3 separate regions of the Homo sapiens genome follow, and regions 2 and 3 are each linked to region 1. Evidence: fine-mapped expression QTL. A gene starts in region 1. Each other region holds a variant in brackets. All regions are shown on one strand. Distances are between the middles of the regions.

Region 1 (4,242 bases):
AACTGATAAAATAGTACATACATTATTTAAGACATTCTTGAGGCTGGGTGCGGTGGCTCACGCCTGTAATCTCAACAGTTTGGGAGGCAGAGGCGGGCGGACTGCTTGAATTCAGAAGTTTTGAGACCAGCCTGGGCAACATGGTGAAATCCTGTCTCTACAAAAAATACAAAAATTAGTCGGGTGTGGTGGTGGGTTCCCGTAGTCTCAGCTATTGTGGGGAGAGGCATGAGGATCGCTTAAACCTGGGAGGTCAAGCTGCAGTGAGCTGAGATGGCTCCACTGCAATCCAGCCTAGGGGACAAAGTGAGCCCCTGTCTCAAAAAAAAAAAAAAAAAAAAAAAGAGGGAGAGAGAGAGAGAAATTGAGATTCATTCAAGGAAATACCATGGGTAGATCCTTAATATCCAATAAGAAAAATGATTTGGAGAACATTAAAGTTTACATACATTAAAAAAACCCAAATGACACTAAATGCATGTGTCTATAAACATGTTTAAGCACCGTAAAACTAAAAATAAAAGTGGACTAGAATTACACTTTTATTTTTATAAAATAAAATTTTATACCCATAAAATTCATGGTAGAAGTGGCCTACGCCAAGGGAGGAAAATGAAGCAGGGAGGAAAGAGGAATTCAATTCTGTAGTATTTAATTTCTTATGAAAAATCTGGGACAAAAATGAAAAATGTTAAATTTTTAAATTCTTGGTGATAGGTCACAAATGTTTGTTTCATAATTACTTGCACTTTTTGAATAAAAATAAAATCTTTTGGAAATTAAAAAAATTGGCGATTTGTCATGGTGATTTTCTTAAAAGACTAAGGTGTCTAGTGGGATACAGAAGACTCGATGATTTTATTTTATTTTAGGTTTTTTTTTTTTTTTTTTTTTTGAGACGCAGTCTCGCAATGTCGACCAGGCTGGTGTGCAGTGGTGCGATCTCCGCTCGCTGCAACCTCTGCCTCCCGCGTTCATGCGATTCTCCTGCCTCAGCCTCCCGAGTAGCTGGGATTACAGCTACTTGCCCGCCACCACGCCTGGCTAACTTTTTGTATTTTTAGTGGAGACAGGGTTTCACTATGTTGGCCAGGCTGGTCTCGAACTCCTGACCTCGTGATCCGCCCGCCTCGGCCTCCCAAAGTGCTGGGATTACAGGCGTGAGCCACCGCGCCCGGCCTTATTTTAGTTTTTTATGTCAATTTTTGAATTTGTAATTGGGTGAGAATTAAAGTGTTATAAATTTCACCTTAAGTGAAAATTTATTAGTTTTCTAATGACAAAAGTAGTTACATCTGACGTAAGGGGATTTAATTATCTTTTTCTGGGCTTGCGTCCCGGAACGCTGCTGCATTATGTAATCTGTAGTAATATACCCACGAGCAGTTTGGAGGGTTCTGGGAAGCACATTTGTTTTGCTTACCTACCATGGGAAAGATTCCACGTGGTCCTAGAAGCATACGTATTCGTCGGTTACAGTATTTTAAATATTCACTGGCCGCTGAAATTTAAAATGGATGAAAAAGAAATTCTCTTAAGTAGCGTTCTTGAAACTGCTTTATCAAACTCAGTTCATATTTTCAGTTGGAGTTCGTGATGTATGTGATTTTCCTTTAAATAAAACCCGAATCTTTAGTAATACAAATATTGGGAACTTCGATTACTGTAGGTCTTAGGGTAGACTCGCTTGGACTTTGACTAAATACTATGCTTTAGAAATTTATCTTTAGGAGATAAATTTGGGGGGTTTATCTTTTTATATTTGCTTTGTTTCAATTTATTTAAATAAAAGTAGTCTTTCTAGAAGTATGTTTTATAGTACCACTTACCTCGGTTACTGTCCCAGTTAAGCAGTTTTCACGAATGTGGAAAAATAGTAGTGTTTTTCTTTCATACACGCGTATATGAAAAATTTTTACATTGATAGAGAATTATTCGTAAAAATTAAAGTAAATTTACTGTTAGTCTCTAATTTTGTTCTGAGATAGCCACGCTGTGGCATTAAGAAGGATAATCAAGGAATAAGCCATAATGTTCAGAAAGGGGCTTTACTTTTTATTTTTAATATTATTGATAAACTTTGTTTAGTCGAATTGATGTCTGCGTGTCTTCCCCCGCCTTCCCCATAAAACAGCGGGACAGAAAGTCCTGAAAACTCCAAAAGGGAAATATTTACTCAGAGGTCTATTCAAATTTGCTTAGTCTCTGACGTTTTCCTGTGTCGTACAAATCCCTCGTGCGGCAAAAGTAGTTTGTCTTTACTAGGCCACCGTCTCGTCAGCGTTACGGAGTATTTTGTCCGCCTGCCGCCGCCGTCCCAGATATTAATCACGGAGTTCCAGGGAGAAGGAACTTGTGAAATGGGGGAGCCGGCTGGGGTTGCCGGCACCATGGAGTCACCTTTTAGCCCGGGACTCTTTCACAGGCTGGATGAAGATTGGGGTGAGTGGGATCTGAGAATGTACCAGGGTGGCTCGGGTTCGCGTCTAAAGGTTTCTTCCTCCCTACTTCCGCCCACTCGTGGTGACAGGTGTGGACCAACCCTGCCTGGGGAGTGAGGCCCCTCGTCACTCCTGTTCGTGCCCCTGGAAGAGTCTGGGAGTATCGTTCGGCTTCTGTCCTGGCCACAGGGAGAGTAGAATATTGTCTAACTGGAGTTAACTGTCGTTTTTCACTATTCCCACTGGGGAAGTACCGGGTGATCTTTTTGTGTGGCTAACACTGGACGTCTTTAGGAGGTTTAGAGCAAAATGGCTGGGACCGCCAAAAAGGCTACAAGCTATTTCCTGAGTGTGAAATGTGGGCGGTGAGCACAATGGAGTGGGTTTTTGTGTGTTTGGTGTATATGAGAGAATGTGGTTATATACAAGAAATTCTAATCTTACAGCTTTTACTATTGGTTTAAGCCTGATGTCCGTCTTGGCAGAAAAGCAAAACACCCAAGCACCTGACCTCGGGTCCCTGCTTAGCTACACCTAATACTTATGGTGTAATCCTGACTGCTCTCCAGATACAGCTCTTAATTTTCTTGTTAATGGATATTTTGTTTGGTTTTGGTGGTCAGGAAGGGTGGAATGGGATGAAGTGGAAATGAGAATGAAGAAACTTTGTTATCTAAGTATTTAGAGGAGACTTTTATTCTCCTCTTGATTGCAAGATATAATAGTAATATTGTTCTTAGGTTCCAATATGAATTTGGGATTGTGTAGGTTCCCAAATGGGCCCGCTAGTGAGCCTACACCACTCATCAGCCTTGGAACTGGGGGGAACCCAGTTTATCTTTCTCCCTTGGATCAGCATTCTCAATAGCAGGAGTGGAAGGAATCTCAACTTTTTATTGAACAAAGTCATTTAATTGTTTCAAGGACAGATGTTCTCTAAAACTATATTCTATTGGAGATTTATTTTAATCCTTGGGTAGATTTTTTAAGAGTTGCTGGAAAACTTAAGATTTTTTATTCCCATTTTCCCAAGCCAAATGCATTAGTGACAGTAACCATTTATTTAGCTCTTTGTGTCAGGGACCCTGTTAAACTCTTGACATGAAGTATTTTGTTTAATCCTACCAACAGTCCAATGAGGTACTGTTTATTTTAGAGATGAGGAAACTGAGGCTAACAGAATTTGTGCTCAGATTCTTAGAGCTAGTTAGTGGCAGAAGAAGGATCAGACCAGGTTTTTCTACCTCCAAAGTCTGTACCCCTAGCATCTATTCTATAATGCTTTCCTAACTCATGTCTACAGATTTTATTCTTCCTAAGATCCCTGGTTATTAATAAGACTACTTGAATATATTGGGTAGTTATGATTTATTTTGTCAGCTAGTCAGCTATTATATTTTCATGACATTTCTTTTCTTTACCTCTTTTTTTGAGATGGAGTTTCGCTTTTGTTGCCCAGGCTAGAGTGTAATGGCGCAATCTTGGCTCACCGCAACCTCCGCCACTCGGGTTTGAGCGATTCTCCTGCCTCAGCCTCCCGAGTAGCTGGGATTACAGGCATGCACCACCACGCCCGGCTAATTTTGTATTTTTAGTAGAGACGAGGTTTCTCCATGTTGGTTAGGCTGGTCTGGAGCTCTGGACCTCAGGTGATCCGCCCACCTCGGCCTCCCAAAGTGCTGGGATTACGGGTGTGAGCCACTGTGCCCGGCCAGTGACATTTCTTAAAGTATAACTGTGGGACACTTCCTGGTAGCATAATTTTATGTCGTCTTCTGATACCCAGGCTGCATTTTCCAGA
Region 2 (4,242 bases), 170 kb after region 1:
AATGTAAAGATGATTTTAATTTGAACATGTACAACATGCAAAAGAATATTTTTTCTCCTTAAATCATACTTTAGAAGTCAACCCTAATTTAACAAAATAGGTGATCCTGAATGGACTTTAATTCATTTATTCAGCAAGGCTTATTGAATTACTCTTCTAACTCATCATGAGTTACACTCATAATAAAAGTCTGCACTCCTAATTTTGGCCTCCCATAGCTCAGTCAATCTCTGTCTATGTTTCCAGTTTCATTTCCTATTGCCATCTCCCTTAACCTTCCACTCCAGCACAGTTTTTCTTGCTCCTCCCCATGTTGATGCTCATGCATGCCTCAGGGCTTTTCCATCTTCCTGAAAACCTCTTACCCAGATCGTTACATGGCTCGCTTCACTTCATTTACTTCTCTGCTCCAGCATCACTACCATAAAGAAGCATCCCACCAGCACTCTTCACAATACAGCAGGGACCATCAAAAAGCAAGAGACACAATAAAAATGATAGTTGAAAAGATTAATCTCATGACAGTGTACAAGATAACTTGTACGTAAACAGGCTGGATTAGACATGGATGAGTGGGGGCCACAATTAGGAACTTTCACATTCATTCAGGTGTGAATTGATAATGATCCAGTTATGACCACCTTGGGCATGAGTAAAGCTACACAAACATTCTCCCAAAACCAGGTCTTCCCTCGGATTTGTGATGCCGGTAAATTGTTGCCACCTTCCTCCATCCTCCTCTAACAGAGCCATTTCAGAACCAAAACTTTTTAAAGAAAAGTTTGAAAAAAATAAGAAGCACCAAAGAATTAGCAGGAAATGGTTAGGTTTTAGGACTAGAAACCACAATGCAGTAGGGGCTCTGCAAGAGGAAGGAGTGAGTGCTTCAAAGTGACATAGCAGCTGTGTGCTGTTGTGCCTGAGACTCCTTCCAATCCTAGATGTTTCCTAGTGGTGCTGGCAAAGCTTCTGTTGGCTGTACCACATTCTTTCCCAATCCAACTCCCTCTATGTAAAGTCTCATAATTCTAAGGATCCTGGGTTCAAATGTAAGTTTCTTCCGTAGTAGTTACCATTTGGGTGTTTCTGCTTCTTCTAAACTCCCTTCTAATTGTTTTTCCTCTTGTTTTTAAGCTAGTGATTTTTTCCCCTGTATTTTACATATGCTTATGGAAAGAACAGATATGTTTTCATGGCACTTAGCATGTTATAAATGCATTGTTTTCCATGGAGTAAGATCATTCTACCACTGAGAGCATTAAATCCATGTTCCTAAGGTAACCCATGTTTTCCTAGAAACAGGGGAAGAGTCATGACCAACTTTCACATTGTCTGCTTTGTTCTTGGGGTATCATCCATTGTGATAACCATTCCCAAGAAGTTTCCTCCCCAAAACAGAATTACTTCTCTGCCTACCCTTGATTCAAGTGACCTTTCATTACAGATAATCTGGTTTTATAGGGAAATCTAGTAGGTTCTGCACTCAGTTGTAAAGAAAGACAGATGCAAATGGGTTTCAGTAATTGGTACAACATTGTCACAAAGCTCTTTAGATTAGCAAGTACTTATAAACTAGGTGGAATATTTTTTATTCCATGTTGTTAATAAGAATGCCCTAATCCTCTTTACACACTTGAAAATATCCAGGGAATGCAGAGAGAGACAGACAGAGAGATAGACTCGTATGTAATCATGGACTTTTGAGATAGGTAGGTATAGATGTTCCTGTAAACTAAGCGTTTGTAGCCTCCCAAAATTTATATGTTGAAATCCCTACCATACTGTGATATGGAGCCTTTGGTATGAGGTCAGAGGCTTCATGCATGGGATTAGTGCTCTCATAAAATAGGCCCTGGAGAGCTTCCTCACCCCTTCTGCCATTTGAAGACACAGTGAGAAGATGAATATCTGTGAACCAGGAAGCAAACCCTCACCAGACATTAAATCTGCCAGTGCTTTGATCTAGTTCTTCTCAGCCTCCAGACTGTGAGGAATAAATTTCTGGTTTTTATAAGCCATCCTGTCTATACAGTTTGTCACAGCAGCCTGAACAGACAGAGACAAGTGTAATCCCATCTTTTCCTTAGCTGTATTATTAGGTTAGTGCAAATGTAATTGCTGTTTTCGCCATTTTAATGGCAAAAATCACAGCTACTTTTGCACCAACATAATATTTGCTCACTTTTCTCTGTTGTAATTTTCTCATATGAGACTGTAGGAAAGAATGATTTAATATATTCTATAAAGTGCCTAGTAATATAATAGGTCCAGCATATGAAAGCATTCATAATAGGTTCTCAGTAAAGAGTGGCAATGCTCGAGCATTTCTAAAGAAACGGAATTGATTATATTCCATTCCTTTTTCAGACAGTTATAAATGTTAGAAATTTCTTTCTGTTACTGCTCCAGAATCTGTGCTTTTCAATTATTGGTTCTAATTCAGTATTTTTAGGCCTCAGAGAAAAAG[C/T]CTTAATGCCGTCTTCACGTGGTAGGCTACCAGGTCTTTGAAGATGGCCATTTTGTATCCCACATCTTCTCCACATCTGCTCATAGAAATACAGTTTCTTCATTTGCTCCCTTATGGTTTAGGTTCGAAGCAACTCAGAATGGAACACAACGCTACTGGTGTGTTAATTAGCAGGTGAGAATGGAACTATCACCTTTTTTGTTGTGTTCTTAACACAACCTTAGTTGGCATGAATTTGAGGAGCAGTTATATTTCACCTTTGACTTGTCAAACTTACACTTGACTAAAACCTACAGATGTTTTTCTTTTTAATTTTTTTTAATTTTTAATTTTTGTGGGTACATAGTAGGTGTATATATTTATGGGGTATGTGACATGTTTTGATACAGGTGTGCAACATGAAATAATTACATCATGAAGAATGCAGTATCCATCCCTTCAAGGATTTATCCATTGAGTTGCAAACAATCCAATTATTACACTCTTTAAGTTATTTTAAAATGTTACAGATGTTTTTCAAACATGTCTCTGTTCTACCCTATCTCTCTCATCATATATTTGTATGGGATTTTACATTTTGACATATTAAATTTCATCTTGTTGGAGTTTGCTCGTTTTCTTCTTACCTATGAAGCTGTTTTGGGACCCTAACTATGACAGTAAGTCACTTGGCTATGCACTTAATCAGCATGTGTTTAATATCCACACTCACATTTTTATAAATATTTAACAGGAAGGGAAATTTATACCTCCAAACCCACTCTAATCCCTGAACTCCAAATGCATGTAACCAACTGCCTGTTAAATATCTTCACTTAGATGATTCCTGTCAGTTCACACTTAACCAAACTGATTTCCACCCTCAACCTTCTCCTGTAGTCTTCTCATCCTAGTCACAGTGAAGCATATCCGTCCTTCACATTGCACAGCCAAAAACCTTCCTTGCAGTCATCCTTGACCCATTTTGTTTCCTCCCACATCCCATATCTAATCCCTCAGCAAACTCTACTTCACAATGCATCCTGAGTCATACCTTTCTTACTTCTTACCTTCTTGCACTACCACTTTGGACCAAATCATCAGAAATAGATTCCTAACATTTTCTGTATTTACCCTTACATTCTTTAGTCTTTTTAAAATATTGACGCTAGAATGAACCTGTTAAGACTTAAATTATGTCACTCCTACTAAAAATACAAAAATTGGCCAGGTGTGGTGAGGCATGCCTGTAGTCAGTCCCTGCTACTCGGGAGGCTGAGTTGGGAGAATCACGTGAACCCAGGCAGCGGAGGTTGCAGTAAGCAGAGATTGTGCCACTGCACTCCAGCCTGGGCGACAGAGTGAGACTCCCTCTCAGTTAAAAAAAAAAAAAAAAAAAAAAATCACCTTAATGCCTTTTATCTCTGGTTACTTCAACACCATAATTACCATAAATAATTCATCTCTGTTGGAATATTTGTGTCCCATTAAAATTCGTATGTTGAAATCTCTTCACTAATGTAATGATATGAAAATCAGCCTTTATGGGGGTGATTAGGTCATGAAGGCAGAGCCCTCATGAATGGAATTACTGCTCTTATAAAAAGACAAAGGACTTTGCAGGGACGTGGATGAAGCTGGAAACCATCATTCTCAGCAAACTAACCCAGGAACAGAAAACCGAACACTGCATGTTCTCACTCATAAGTGGGAGTTGAACAATGAGAACACACGGACACAGGGAGGGGAACATCACACATCGGGGCCTTTCGGGGGGTGGGGGACAAGGTGAGGGA
Region 3 (4,242 bases), 350 kb before region 1:
GCCAATTGTTTAAGTTCACAGGCAAGAACTTTAAAATAATCACAATTTTATTTTTAAAAAATAGAGGAAAAGATGGAAAGTAGATGAGAAGAATTTCAACAGAGAATTGGAATAGAGACAAAAACTTCTAGAACAGAACCCTCTGAATGGGTTTAACAGCAAATTGGACACAGCAGGAGACAAGATTAGTGAATTCAAAGACAGATCAATAGGCTGGGCACTGTGACTCACACCTGTAATCCCAGCACTTTGGGAGGCTGAGGCGAGTGAATCAGCTGAGGTCAGGAGTTTGAGACCAACCTGACCAACATGGTGAAACCCTGTCTCTACTAAAATACAAAATTAGCCGGGCGTGGTGGTGGGTGCCTGTAATCCCAGCTACTCTGGAGGCTCAGGCAGAAGAATCGCTTGAACCCGGGAGGCGCAGGTTGCAGTGAGCCGAGATCACACCATTGCACTCCAGCCTGGGCAATGAGTGAGACTCTGGCCTCAATACAGAAAGAAAGAGAAGGGAGGGAGGGAGGTAGGAAGGAAGGAAGGGAGGAAGGAACCAACCCATATTGAAGCACACACACGAGTTGAGCCTGAGACCTTGGTCAAGAACCAAACCTAACAATACTCTGGCTAAAGAGTGAGGGGACTGTGGGCATGGGGGAATGCCTCCCCACAGATTCCCATCCACGACCCTTGGCCTGATGACCACAGCATCTCAGTAATGCTTCTGTAGTCCAGTATCATTTCTTCTTTCTGAAATACATACATACATACATACATATATATATATATATATTTATTTATTTATTTGTTTATTTTTTGAGGCAGAGTCTTGCTCTGTCACCCAGGCTGGGGTGCAGTGGCATGATCTCAGCTAACTGCAACCTCTGCCTCCCGGGTTCAAGTGATTTTCCTGCCTCAGCCTCCCAAGTAGCTGGGATTACAGGCATGCACCACCATGCCTGGCTAATTTTTGTATTTTTAGTGGAGATGGGGTTTCACCATGTTGGCCAAGCTGGTCTGGAACTCCTGACCTCAAGTGATCTGCCTGCCTCAGCCTCCCAAAGTGCTGGGATTACAGGCATGAGCCACTGCACCCGGCCTGAAATACATGTTTAAAAGAAAAATGTTGATCGTTTACTCAAAGGGGTAAATTAAGAATGGTAGTGAGCTCCTAATATCGCTAGCCACAATTCTCAAGGGAAGCAAATGGGGAGGCCAAACATCTGGTTGCTAACCTCATCAGCACCTGATGGGTAGGGAGGCTGCGCGAAGGCTGATGTCCACTGAGGAATTCTGAAATGCTCCTTAAGGGGACTAGGCCCACCCATGTTGAGAATCACTAATGTATACTTGTGTTTAATTTTTTCTCTATTTCTTCTTCTTTTTCTTTTTTTAAGAGATGTTATGCTATGCTACCCAGTCTGCTCTCAAACTCCTGGGGTCAAGCGATCCTCCTGCCTTGGCCTCCTGAGTACGTTTAATTTTGCCACGGAAACATGCAGTCTCTCAGGAATATTCTAAATCTAGAATGGGTGGATTAGCACAGTCATAGTATTAGTAATTAATAAAACTTTCCCCCACTTTGAAATCCTGAAAGTAGTTAAAATCATGGAGTTCTAGGCAGTCCGGTATTAGCAGCCCTTGACCTTTGCATTGGCAGCTGTCACCAGGTGTTTAATGTGGCTTATTAGGGAAGTCCAGAGCCAGCCAATACTTTACTGAGCTTGTAAACTCATAATCCGTTTAGATTTTTTTGTAAAATAAAAACCATATATCTATATGGTAACGAATTGGTTAATTGTAAGCCAGGAAATAAAATGTATAAACAAAAGTGAAGTGGTAACAAATTAGTTAAATGGCAGGGGGATCAAATCCAGATCTGTCAGGACAGAAGGGAATACTCACCAACTATGCTAATGAGGAAGGAGATGAATCTAAAGTCAACAACATCTCCTCTAACTGCCCACTTTTACACTGGGCCCAGATAGGTAGGAAGCATTGATTGCTCATGCCCCATTTGCTCCCAGGCCACCACCTAGTCTGACCCTTTGCTGGCAGGACAGAGCGAGAGGCCAGCATCAGAGTGGCCATTTGTGAAAATGCCAGAAACGTTGTCTACTCTCCACCCCACCCCATCTCCCACAAAACTCACCTGTGCCATGCAAGACTGTGGCAGATGGTTGGAATTCCAGGCGCTACTGCTCTTCATCCTTCTAGGGAGGCAGATGTCAGGGCAGAGGCCTGGGAAGTGTGAGGCTGCTGGATCCAAGAGTGGGGGCAGGTGGAGCAGAGGTGAGGTTTGGCCTTTTGGAAGCACTGGGTCACGAAAATCCAACCACGTGCTTTGACCAGATTCGTTTCCTGCTCAGATTCTGGATTGAGGAAGGCGGGGAGTGAGACCATGGCAAAGAATTGACTAGGAAGAAGCTGTCACCCTTGATGGAGTGGGCAAAGAGAAAAAGCAATCATTTGGGCATAGGGCCCAGCTGGACTCCTGGGTGGAAGGTGTGGCCTGGGTGTTCTTGGGTTCCTTGTCTGCTTGAGCCCCAGAAC[A/G]ATAGAAAATCTTGATGGCCACAGCAACAGGAGCTTAATAGTGGGAAGGAAGAAAAATGAAGGACAAAACCAAGACTTAAACTCCCACTGGGAAGTTTGAGAAAAAAGCCTTAACCACTATACCAAAAATGTACCCCAGGAAACTGATCTTACCTTCTGGTACCAGCATCAGCTACATAAATTGTCGGGTCTAGTGCAAAGTGAAAATGCAACCTCTTCTGAAAAAAGCAGCAAGAAAAGTGCTGTGAAGAGTAGTGAACTATAAAGCTTTTTCCTTTCTTCCATAGTCCTTCCTATGATGGGGCTTTTTATTTGCTCTTATTTGTCATTCTATGTAAAGAAAAATTAAGAATTTAAATAATTAGCATGATTTTTTTTTTTTTCCGAGACAGAGTTTTGCTCTTGTTGCCCAGGCTGGAGTGCAATGACACAATCTCGACTCACTGCAACCTCCACTTCCCGGGTTCAAATGATTCTCCTGCCTCAGCCTCCGGAGTAGCTGGGATTACAGGTGCCCGCCACCATGCCTGGTTAATTTTTTATATTTTTAGTAGAAACGGGGTTTCACCATGTTGGCCAGGCTGGTCTTGAACTCCTGACCTCAGGTGATCTGCCCACCTCGGTCTCCCAAAGTGCTGGGACTGCAGGCGTGAGCCGCCGCGCCTGGCCGGCTAATTATTTGAAATTTTAAGAACATTTTCCAGACACTCCTAAAAGTTTATAACCTACGCTTGCAGTGGTTAAAGCGTCAGTCCTAAGGTATTTTTCCAAAAGGTGCTGCCCAGGTAACTAAGCTGTCTCTCCCTGGTGGTCTAGTGGCTAGGATTCTAGTGCTTTAACTGCCAGCGCCCAGGTTCAATTCCCGGTTAGGAAAGTTTGCTTCTTTGCTTTCTTGATCACACGCATTCTATTATCGCCGTGGCTGCGGCTGTCACTGCCCTCCGGAGCAGTTAAGGTTTGCTTGCAGGCACGCCTCTCTGCAAGGCACTACTGACATCCTGTACATCAGTATCCAGGGAATGGGGACTGCCTGTATGGAGTAAAAAGGTAGGCAGATTCAGACTCACCTCAGCCCCACTCTATTGAGAATTACTGATTTTTATTTTTACTTCTTGGGGGCTGAGTCTCGCTCTGTCGCCAGGCTGGAGTGCAGTCGTGCGCTTTCAGCTCATTGCAACCTCCGTCTCCCGAGTTCAAGGAGTAGCTGGGACTACAGCTCAGCCTTCCGAGTAGCTGGGGCTACAGGCCCGCACCACCACGCCCAGCTAATTTTTGTATTTTTATTTTTGTATTTTTAGTAGAGACTGGGTTTTACCATGTTGGCCAGGATGGTCTCGATCTTTGACCTCGTGATCCGCCCGCCTCCCAAAGTGCTGGGAGCCAACGCTCCCGGCTTGATTTTTAAAAATCAATATAAGTAATTTTTACATGAAACAAGTGAGTTATTTCAAATGTCTTCTAAATCTAGAAAGGTCTGATGAATTGGCATAGGCACAGTTTTAAGAATAAATGTAATTCTCCCTCCCCGACCTCCTGCCGAGTTCTCATTTAAACCCTAAGGGCGGTTTGTTTACATTTCAGAGATGTAGTAGATGCCCAGGTTATTTTACCAGATGCGCTACTGTTTCCTCTGGTAACAGGTGTTCCAAATCGGAAAACAAACTAGTCCGTTATGCTAATTTGCATATTTGA

Evidence for each region. PIP is the estimated chance that this variant, and not a neighbour inherited with it, causes the effect. A credible set is the group of variants that fine-mapping cannot tell apart.
Region 2: its variant is the best candidate, but not a certain one, in a credible set for the expression of ATF6 in whole blood (INTERVAL, PIP 0.86).
Region 3: its variant is the best candidate, but not a certain one, in a credible set for the expression of ATF6 in whole blood (TOPMed, PIP 0.79).

The regions. Positions count from the first base shown.
Region 1 is chr1:161,764,001-161,768,242 of GRCh38, forward strand. ATF6 (activating transcription factor 6) reads left to right here and starts at 2,320. Exons shown (of 16, transcript NM_007348.4): 1 at 2,320-2,442. The coding sequence starts at 2,361. ATF6-DT (ATF6 divergent transcript) reads right to left here and starts at 2,147. Exons shown (of 3, transcript NR_187280.1): 1 at 1,830-2,147; 2 at 1,424-1,501; 3 at 1-157. LOC124904444 (a long non-coding RNA gene) reads left to right here and starts at 2,449. Exons shown (of 2, transcript XR_007066695.1): 1 at 2,449-2,806. RefSeq lists enhancers at 429-598, 2,138-2,217, 2,248-2,327.
Region 2 is chr1:161,933,522-161,937,763 of GRCh38, forward strand. The region is part of intron 15 of ATF6 (activating transcription factor 6); the gene reads left to right. Among named protein-coding and RNA genes, the nearest start is that of OLFML2B, 88 kb to the right of the region's middle. The variant C/T (reference allele first, on the strand shown) is at 2,468.
Region 3 is chr1:161,417,520-161,421,761 of GRCh38, forward strand. It overlaps the pseudogene COMMD6P1 and the pseudogene TRUND-NNN3-1. Among named protein-coding and RNA genes, the nearest start is that of TRE-TTC4-2, 2.5 kb to the right of the region's middle. The variant A/G (reference allele first, on the strand shown) is at 2,551.